2 separate regions of the Homo sapiens genome follow, and region 2 is linked to region 1. The links come from fine-mapping of genetic effects on plasma protein levels. A gene starts in region 1. The other region holds a variant in brackets. All regions are shown on one strand. Distances are from middle to middle.

Region 1 (5,380 bases):
TATTAATGCTTGTCCGAGATCACACAGCAGAGATACAGAACCAGGCAGTATGGCTCCGTTAGTGATTTTAATCACTTGGTTATACTGCCTCTCAATAACAAAGCAATAACTAGGAAAATCCCCTTGTGCATGGAAATTACAAAATATACTTCTAAATAAACTGTGTTCAAAGAAGAAATCCCAACTGAAATAAAACATGTCAACTCAAGGGCCAAAAACTTATGGAGAAACTAAAGTAGTTTAAGAGAAATTTATAGCCTCAGATCTCACATTATTAATACCAAAAAAGTATGGTTGAGAATCAATGATCTAAGTTTCTAGCTCAAAAAACAAACACAAAAGTCCCACAAAATCAAATCTTCTAACGTAGAAGGAGGAAATAATACAGATAGAGCAGAAATCAGTAAAACGGAAAGCAGACACACAATCAAGAAAATAAAGCCAAAAGTTGCTTTTTTCAAATGAATAATAAAACGGATAAACCCCTACTAAGACTGATCAAGACAAAAAAAGAGAAAACACAAAGTACCAATATCAAGAATGAAAGGGAACATCACTACAGATCCCGTGGACCCTGAAATGATAATTAGAGATTATTACATTGTATATGCCACATTAGACAATCTAAATGAAGTGGGGGAAAAACTTTAAAAAATAAAACTTAGCAACATTGACACAAAATTAATTTTAAAATCTGAATACTTCTTTATCTACCAAACAAATTAAATTCATTATTTAAAATCTTCCTACAAGAAAACCTTCAGACACAGATGATCTCACACCAAAACAAACAAACAAAAGCCCTCACCCGCAGAAACCCTTTCAGAGTTAAAGAAGGAGCAACTTTACAATTTGGTTTAGGAACCATCATACGTTTGATATCAACACTTGGCAAAGATATTATAAAAAATGAAAATTACAGGCTAATATGTTTCATAAACATAGATTCAATAATCCCAAACCAGCTTCCCTCACTCCAGGCTCAGTTCTAGGTCTTCTTGCTGTAAAATTTTTCCTTAGGATTCTGCCCACGCACATGATTTCAAAGACCATCCTTATACAGATGACACGTTTTTAGAAATAGTTTCTCTCCAAATCTATCTCTTCAAACATCTGTAATTCATCATACTTAAGCTGAGCATTTCTTCTTCTTCCTCCCGTCACCATAGCACACAAATAACTAAATGTAGGAACTGGTGGCAGCTAAGAATTTAGTACCAAAAAGAATCCTTTGATAATATAGCTTATAACTCTTCCTGGTTCTAGTATAAAAGTTGGAGCTCATAAAATTGAGTTTACTATAAGGAAGTATACCTATAATTGTCCACTGAGGAAGTGGGGAAAGAAAAGGAAGGAGAATGAAGAAAAGGAATCATTTCTGGCAAGCAGTAACAAAGAATCATGTGCTCTGGTGTTGTCCTTACTTTCTCTTTGACCAGTGACATTTCTGCCTTTAATTTTCTATGACCCGTATCAAGCTAGACAGGCACAAAATATTGATCCTTATCCACATGGCATTCCACTTAAACAGTTATAATGGGATGAAACTCTAAAACCTTATGGATTGCAAAAATATTTATTTAAAAGGAATTAAAGTTGGCACAATATATCTTGTTCAAAGATTAATATTAGCTCCAATTTATTCTACTTGCATTCTTTAAAATCAGCTTAATTTTCATGGCTCAATGTCAGTCAAAAAACACTACAGTGAAGAATTATCAGTAAACTGCTAATAGGTATGGGATTCTTTTGAGGAGTGATGGAAATGTTCTGGAATTAGATGCATGCAAACCATGGTTTTCACAACCTAATGAATATACTAAAACCCACTTAACTGTATATTTTAAAATGACAAATTTTATGTGAAATACATGTCAATTAAAAAAATTAGCAGTGGTTACTAACAGCCTTCAAAGTTAAAAATGTTTTGTCTCTAACACTCTCTCTGAGGATATGGAGAAATACGACATTCATCCTTAATTAGGAACGGAGAGCTTTTCAAGCCTGCACTTAAAACAGAGAGCACTAAAAACTCTACGACCTAGACGGTTTTTTCCTTGGCTTTCCCCTTTTCCTGACAACCATGCTTTTTTTTTTTTTCCCCATGTCTTCTAGTTTCACTCAATATCGTTGGCTAAACAAGAATCACATTTTAAAATATACAACGCATCCTAAATTGACGGAGGGCTTTTCTCTTTTATCAGTCTAATTCGTCCTAAGCTAGAACTACCTCATGGGTGTGAGAACTGCTGGCTTTAAGCTTGCTTCCTTCAGATGCTCCTGTACCAAGTCAGCGGGATTTTGTTCTAATATGAAAACACAGCTGAATTAGCTTTTCAAAAGGGAATGGATACAGAGCTCCAATCCTGCTCATTTTAGGGCAAGTATTACAAGCTAAATTCAGGCTGAAAAACCAAGCAAACGAACAAGAAGTGGATCAATTCTCAGAGAACCTGCCATAATCTGGCCCTTGCCCACTTCTCTACCTCATGTCTCAAGACGTCCCCTCGCCTCCAGGTACTTTGCTTTATCATTTGTCCCGTTTTTCCTGTCACTCAGAGACAGCCTTTGCACGTGCTTTTCCCTCTGGCCAGGCCATTCTCTCTCTCTTAGCCTCGCTGATTCCCACTCATCTTTCACGTCTTCCCGGACCAAGCCAAAATATCCGAGGGAGTTTTCTAACCATCGGCGGTGTCCTCAGGGGCACATTAATAGACGTTGAGAAACTGAGGGACGGCGGAAAATCACCCCTTAGCAGAGGAGGTTCTAGGGCACCTTAGAGGTGATTTCATTCGAGCTTTCTTGGAGACCTTAGGAAAGCCAGCGGCGGGACTGCGGGACCTACGCGCTCGGCGCTAAGGGAGGGTCCAGGCACCAGGCGGGCGTTTGGGCGCACGGGCACGCGGAGACTTGGTGGGCCAGGAGAGGGATGCTGGGTCGCAGGACCGCGGCTCGTTCGTTCCTCTCAGGCTTGCGCTTGCCGCTTGCCGGGCCGGTCAGAGGGAGCAGCCCCGGCGAGCTACGCCCTCCCTGCCCGGACCCCACGCTCCACCCCCCGCCCCGCCGCCTCCCGCACACTCACCATCCGCCCGCACCGAAAGGCGCGGCAGACCGAGCAGGAGCAGCGCCGCCGCCCAGAGCCCGGGGAGGCGTCTGTGCCAACGGGCAGGCGGGCTGGGTCCCTCGGCAGTCATGGTCCGGGAGTGCGCGGGCCAGCGGACTCGGGTGAGGGCTCTGGCTGCGTTTGGGGTTGCCCAGGCCACTGCCCAGCGTGCGCCACTCGGCTCTGCGCTCTGCGCTCGGCTCACGAATCGCAGGCTTCGCGCCGGGCGCGCCGAGAGGGAGGAGCGCGGAGAGCCGGGGGAGGCTCGGGACGCAGAGCCGGAGCGCCTGGGCCGCCGAACTCCCGGGGGTCTTCTCTGTGGCGCCGAGGAGGCGGCTGTAACCCGGCTCCGCCTTCGCGCTGGGCACCTGGAAACCTCGGTGCCAAAAGGGGCTGCGCTGGGCCGCGCGCTCTGCGGGTACAGCGGGGCGGAGGGCGAGGGCGCAGGGAGGCGGGGAGAGTAGCTAGCCGGCCGCAAGGAGCCCCCGCCCGTCTGGGGGACCCTTGGCGAGAGGGTGACGCAGTCTGACAGGCGGAGCCCCTCCGGCAGGGCCGTTAGACAACGAGTGTCTAACTCTGTCCTCGGCCTCTACTTTTCAACTGGCCTCCTCCCCCTCCCCACCAACACTCTTTTTTTTTTTTTTTTTTAATGAAGAGAGGAAAATCTAAGTTACCTACCACCCTCACTCTAAGGTGTGAAACGCATGGAATAGCGAAATTCCTCTTTCCTAAAAGCGAAGTTTGAGAGTCACTGAGGAAAGGATATCTTCAGGAACGCTTCCTTCACCACTTTTCCTGGTACGCTAGTATTTCTCAAGGAGCAGTAAGAGGGCTAGTGAGATTGTCACCATTATCACCCACCTCCCAAATCAGGGCTTTTTGACCTCGAAAGGGTCTGAGATTCGGACTCTGTCGGTCTGGTCTGGGAATCTACACTCTAAGTTAAAGTGTCCCAATGGATTCTGCTGCAGGGGTCCCTGTTTGACTTGATTCCTTCTTCCTGCTCGCCCCTAGCCTGTCTCCCTACCACCAGCCCTGTTCAGTGAAAGAAGAACTTGCTTTCTTCATAGGTAGAGTAATAAAGATCAGTATTGTTATAACTGAGGCATGCGCGGTGCTCTACAATTTGCAAATCCCTTTTATATTGATGTATGGGTCAACAAACATCTATTGAGTGCCCATACATGCCTGTCCCTGTGCTAGACCCTGAATGTGGCTGCAATCGGTCCTAAAAATGTTCACACTTAAATAAAATATACTTACAATTGAAAAAGTGATTGGTGCTAAAGGGGCAGATGATTATCCTCATTTAATGAACCAGGACACAGACATTGAAATAATTTACTTTCTTTTCACAGTAAGAACTTGGATTTGAATCCACATCTGATTTACTACAGGTGTCATTTTTCAGCTTGCATTAATTGTTGAAATGTACTGAAAAGATTTCTTCTCTCCTTATTACTTCCCATCAACTACAAGGGCTACTATTAATGAGTAATTATTTTGGATAATTAAACTTTGCTTTCAAAATACAAATACTGGCCGGACACGGTTGCCCAGGCCTGTAATCCAAGCACTTTGGGAGGCGGAGGCCGACCAATCACCTGAGATCAGGAGTTGGAGACCAGCCTGGCCAACATGGTGAAATTTCCATCTTTACAAAAATACAAAAATTAGCCGGGCGTGGTAGCTGTTAATGCAGTGAGGTGTTAAATGCAGTGAGGCCTGACAAGTATAAATGAATTTACTTAGCTCCTTCCCTTTTTTTTTTTTTTTTTTTTTTTTTTGAGATAGAGTCTCGCTCTGTTGCCAGGCTGGAGTACCGTGGAGCGATCTTGACTCACTGTAACCTCAGCCTCCCAGGTTCAAGCGATTCTCCTGCCTCAGCCTCCCGAGTAGTTGGGACTACAGGCGTGCACCACCACGCCCAGCTAATTTTTGTATTTTTAGTAGAGACGGGGTTTCACCATGTTGGCCAGATGGTCTCGATCTCTTAACCTCGTGATCCGCCGGCCTCGGCCTCCCAAAGTGCTGGGATTACAGGCATGAGCCACCACACCCGGCCAGCTCCTTCCCTTTTAACAGTTAGCTGGTAACCTAAGGAGTGAGACTTCACATGTCTGGACTGGAGGGGTCATTTTAAAGCCTGGTTAGTGCTGAGAACGGAGGGGAGGGATCAGAAGGTACCTGCCAAGAGCTACCAACTCACTCACTCAGGAGCTTTGCCTAGGAACATTTTAAAAACAGTCAATTGAATATTACTACTTAATTCTCCTA
Region 2 (5,380 bases), 68 kb before region 1:
ATCAAGAGCAGCTATTGTTATCCTTAGAGTGTTTTCCGTCTAGGGCCGGCTCGTGAACAGCCACATATCCTTGCACCTGACACTGTCCCCACACAAATAGCTGGCTTTCGTTGCTTGTTGAATGAATGAGTGAGTTGGCTCTATATCCCCTTGGAGCTGGCCGGTAAGATATTAGTGCCTCATTTTACAAGAAGAGAATAGGAAGGAATTAAGCAATTTGGCCAACAGATACAAGATAGATTCCAGAGTTTTATCTCCCACTTTAGGGTGGCAGCCAGTAGGCCAAACTCCAAAGACCGTTGCTGATGTCTTTTTCTGCCTCCCCTCTTTGGGTTAGTGTGGTATGTACAAGCTCACTCTTGTTGAAAATTAGAAAATAGTTGAAAACAAAAGGTTTTTGTTTTTCTTTTTAAATCACATTAAATGTTTTACATTGCTTATTCTCTATTTTCTATTCTATCCACTGGACAGGGATGTCTTCACCACATTCTAGAAGCTATGTTGTAATGAGCTCTGTTTTCTCAGGTCTGTGAAATTTCTGACATTCATCTAACAAAGTAGAAACTTCAAGCCAGGGACTCCTGGATCTCATGCAAGAGGAGTGGTCCTTGCTCTCCATGAGCCAAGAGCTGGCTGAGGTCCTGTCAGGCAGTAGAGGCTCATGCCTCTCCCCCGGAAGATTGTCTTTCAGAGGAGATCTGGAATCCCACTAGGAAAAACATTTGGAATCTGTTTCAAACAGGGACACAAAGCATCTTCAGGCATGACTGTCAACAGCAACTATGCTCCATGCATGCCACTAAAGGGCAGGCAGGAGAAAGAAGAGTAGAAGGAAGCAGGTGGAAAGAGTGAGGAACCAGCCAGCACAAAAAGAAGTCCACGTTATGGAGAGTTGAAACAGCTGTCTGAAGAAGAGGTGGAGGACATGGAGGTCAGCCCAAGAATTCCAGAGGTTATGGTGAAAAAATCTGGACTGAGGAGAGGAGGTGTAGGGAGTAAGAGTTGAGTGTTGATGGATGTCTTAGGTCAGGATCCTTTGAAGCAAGGGAAGTGATGGGGTGCTCTCAAGAGAAGGGGTGTGAGAGAAGCAGGAAGGAGCCAGTAAGGATGTGTCTTCAGTTGGAGACTGACTTCAGCTTGATCTCATGGGAGCTCTGGAGCATGAATCATATCGGAGTTGGTCCCACCTTGAGGAAAGGAGGCCAGCCTTTTGCATTCCCATGACAGCTGGTCATTGGTTATAGGCTGCCCTAGCAGAGTATACCGTGGTCTAACTTCCTGGGTGAGGGAACTCTCAATAGGCCAAGGGCAATTCTCTGCGTTGGAAGGGTACACTTACGTGCTTATGAGCATTTTAACAGCCAACACTCAGGGCAGCTGGAAGACAGGTTCACCTACCTAGCAAAGGGGACCTGGGAGGGGCATCAACAATGTCCACAACATTGGAAGGCTTGGGAGGCATGGATCTGTGGTGGTCATGGATGTAAAAATGGACATAAGGCAGATGGGATTGGTGCTGATGGCGTCTGAGCTGGATTTGCTAGCTGCCCTTCCGTATCTCTTCCAACATGCCCCTCCAACATGCCCGGTGTCCCAGAAGCCTGACCTCTATGGTTCCATTGCCTGGGCTTCTTCACCCTCTGATTTCCAGTTGCCACTGGGACATGCCAACAAGAGATGGCAGGGTGAGACAAGGTCTGGTTCCTTAAAATCTTTGCTTCCTCCAGGCCACAGTTGGACACTGGCTGCATTCTCTTTGAGGCCAGAGCCCTTGTCCTGCAGGGCCTTTCCTATTACTGAGCTCTTGTTGGGTTCCATAACAGGTCCCCACCATCCCCTGATGGTTCCCCTAACTTTCCCCACACCTTTGTGAACAGTCCCTTCAGCTAACCCTCTAATTACTCCTTTGAGTGTCCTGTGAGTTAGGAGAAAGGGGATAATCAGTTCTCTCTTAGGCCAGTGCTTCTCAAGCTTTACCATTCATGCCCACCACCTGGGCATCCTGTTAGATGCAGATCCTGATTCAGCAGTCCTGGGGCAGGGCCTGAGATTCTGTACTTCTAACAAGCTCGCAGTGCCTGTGCTGCTGGGGCAGGAGCCACACTTTGAATAGCGAGGTCCCGGGTGTTTCGTTGCAGTGAAGTAAGTGGTCTCTGGTTGGGGCAAGGAAGAGGGAAGTAGGGGGGG[GC/G]GGGGCAAGGAAGAGGGAAGTAGGGAGGGAGGGGGGGGCAAGAGTGCCACCAACTTCCCTAAAATCCTGCTGCAGGAGGTAACATAACTGAGAGTTAGGTTTAGAAAGGGCAGTCTTAGATCTTAGATATAGCAAGTATTAAGACATTATTTTCAAGATTACTAGAGATTTTTTTTTTGAATGGAGCCTTGCTCTGTCCCCCACGCTGGAGTGCAGTGGCATGATCTCAGCTCACTGCAACCTCTGCCTCCCGGGTTCAAGCAATTCTCCTGCCTGATCCTCCTGGGTAGCTGGTACCACAAGCATGCTATCACGCCCGGCTAATTTTTGTATTTTTAGTACAGAAAAGATTTCACCATGTTGGCCAGGCTGGTCTCGAACTCATGACCTCAAGTGATCTGCCTACCTCAGCCTCCCAAAGTGCTGGGATTACCAGTGTGAGCCACTGTGCCCAGCGAGAATTTTTTTCTTTTTTTAAACCTTGGTGCAGTAGCCTAGAAATAAAATACATTCAGCAACTGTTGGGGCAATAATTATTTATTTTAAATATCTCAGAAGCTTTGTGTTAATAGAACCCCCTCCCCCAATTTTCATGAGCATTAAACATTCACCATTCTCAAAACATGCATGACATACAATTTAGATTTACATTGTTTTAATCATTCCCTTTCAACATGAATTTTTAGATTCTATAACATTAATTTAGAGGATACCACACCAATAAGAACTTAAAAACTGATGTGTTGGGTTTATTTCACAGTCCATGTCTACAAATAAAACATTTACCTGTATTAATAATTTGTAATAAATTTATTAATACACTGTATTAATAATTTGTAATAAATTTATTAATACACTGTATTAATATTGCCTATTTGTTGGTATAAATCCAATGTTCTGGGTTATTCCACAATAATAGTTGCTAACACAGTCCCAATGCTGAGACAGAGGTTATTTTATATAGTTAAAAATAGAAAAGTTATCTTGCAGTAGATTAGGATCTAATTTATAAATATATACAGTCTCTGGCTTTTATTCTATTATGTTTTGCTTTGGCTACATGCAGAAAGCATTTTATTCCTATTGTTCTTGACTTCGTCTGATGCACAGGTATTCTAGTTGGTACCTTCAGGCTTTATTTTACCCAACTATGGGGAATAAGATCTTTGATTATGCTGCCTCTCTTTACAGCTACTTCGCCTATTACTTTTCCAAAGCTTGCTGAAAAGAGGTGGCAGGGTAGAAAACATGTTGCGAATGTTTTTTTTCCTTAGGTAAAACACCACCAACAATTTTTCAATCATAAAAAAGATCAGGATTTCCCTCTACCACACAAAAACACTTAGACTGCTATGGTGTCTCAAAATAAATGTGTTGCATTCATCACTTTTTACCACTGATAACTATTTCTAAGAAGGTGATTCATATTAGAAAAATATAACATGTTTCATTTCTGTGCCAACATACAGGAGACTATTGCAGGTGGCATTTAGGCAGCTTCAAATGCCACCTCAGCTGCACACAGCCATGCCTGACTTCCACACAACACACACCACATACTCATCTGTGCCTTTAGGGCTTCAGCTGGCCTCGAAGTTCACATTTGAGATTATTATAAACCAACAGGCTCTCAAACTTGAGTGCATATCAAAATCACCTGGAGGGCTTGTTAAAAACAGAACTGGGCCCTACTCCCAGGGTTCCTGTTTCCTGAGTCCAGGGTGGGACTAGAGAATTTGCATCTCCAACAAATTCCCAGGTGACGCTGATGCTACTGGTCTGAGGACCACACTTTGAGAACCACTGCCATAAACCATCCTCGCTGAGCCACCCTAAGATGATTTAGATGCTACGAAATGGGTTACCCAACAGACAGGATGGATTCTGTTTCCACAGAGCTCCCAGTTTCCACACTAGAGAACAGATCAGCACAGATCATTTCATATTCTTTCACAGATTCTTCTGCTTCTCCATCAAGTATGTGCCCATACTTGATAACCTGGTGTTCGGCCCTCTGAAAACATTTCTTTTTTTTTTCTCCCGTGTCATTCTCTCTTACTGGAGTTCAGAGAAATGGTTAATCCTGAGAGAGGAAACCAAGGACTGAGTTTTGTTAGTCCTGGCAAAAATTCCAAGACATTCCTAGGCACAGACTGGTCAAGGACAACTAGGCCACTGCTTCTGAGAGGAAATGGTACTTACTGGTACAAAGCTAACTTTGTTTTTAAAAAATAATGGCAAATCCTTAACCATGAAATATTGAAAATAAAATAAAATAAATGACAGACTGTCCCACAGAATGGAGGGAACAGAGGGGGATGTGTGTTTCTTCACTCCTCAACTCCCCCAACAAAATGTCAGTCTTAAATTCTAATTTCAAGAAACAATGAAAAAAGAAACCTCAAAGCTTCTAGACTGTGTCCTGGCTCTTGGTTCATCTGCCCTCAGCAACATCACAACATTAAAAGGAAACAACCCATTATTCTTCCATATTCCTCTCCCAATAATTCAATATCCATGTCCTAGATAATACTGCTCTCATACACTTGGTTTATCATGACTATTTATAAAATTTCAGGGCATGAAGCTGGTGATTTTCTTTCTTCAAAAAGGTAATACTGTGATGTGGCTCACACCTGGAATCCTAGCACTTTGGGAGGCTAAGGAGGGCAGATCACTTGAGGTCAGGAGTTCTTGACCAGCCTGGCCAACATGGTGAAACTCCATCTCTACTAAAAATATAAAAAAATTAGCTGGGCATGGTGGTGCATGCCTGTAATCCCACCTACTTGGGAGGCTGAGGCAGGAGAATTGCTTGAACTTGGGAGGCAGAGGTTGCAGTGAGCTCAGATCGGGACACTGCACTCCAGCCTGGGCAACAGCATGAGACTCTGTCTCAAAAAAAAAAAGATAATACTGTGATGAAGGAAGAGGCGATTTTTGACCTCACACTGGAAACAGGGCCCAAGCACAGGTCTGGGATTAGTGTAGTCAATTCCAGGGCAGATGGTGGAGGAGACATTGACATGAGTGATGATGTCACCAAAGCCTCCCTGCCCTCCCAGGTGCTCCAGAGACACTTCTCAGCCTATAAAACAAAGGGCTGAGGAAAAAATGATGAGCCTCAGTCCACCTGCGTCATGCTCTAGTGAATTATCGTGTGATGTGTCACAGTTATTTTCCTCCCAAGTG

Which allele goes with the higher level. Positions count from the first base shown, and alleles are read on the strand shown. Strength reflects both the effect of a copy and how common the allele is.
In carriers of allele G in region 2, the plasma level of the protein whose gene starts at base 3,207 in region 1 tends to be lower than with GC alone (strong association).

Evidence for each region. PIP is the posterior inclusion probability: the model's chance that the variant is causal. The UK Biobank Pharma Proteomics Project read protein levels with antibody pairs (Olink). The fine-mapping took linkage between variants from a reference panel, not from the people measured, so its PIPs are less certain.
Region 2: its variant is fine-mapped to the plasma level of the SUSD5 protein (UK Biobank, PIP above 0.99).

What each region holds. Positions count from the first base shown.
Region 1 is chr3:33,215,604-33,220,983 of GRCh38, forward strand. SUSD5 (sushi domain containing 5) reads right to left here and starts at 3,207. Exons shown (of 5, transcript NM_015551.2): 1 at 3,083-3,207. The coding sequence starts at 3,194.
Region 2 is chr3:33,147,334-33,152,713 of GRCh38, forward strand. CRTAP (cartilage associated protein) reads left to right here. Exons shown (of 7, transcript NM_006371.5): 7 at 1-440. SUSD5 (sushi domain containing 5) reads right to left here. Exons shown (of 5, transcript NM_015551.2): 5 at 2,710-5,380. Among named protein-coding and RNA genes, the nearest start is that of CRTAP, 36 kb to the left of the region's middle. The variant GC/G (reference allele first, on the strand shown) is at 2,188.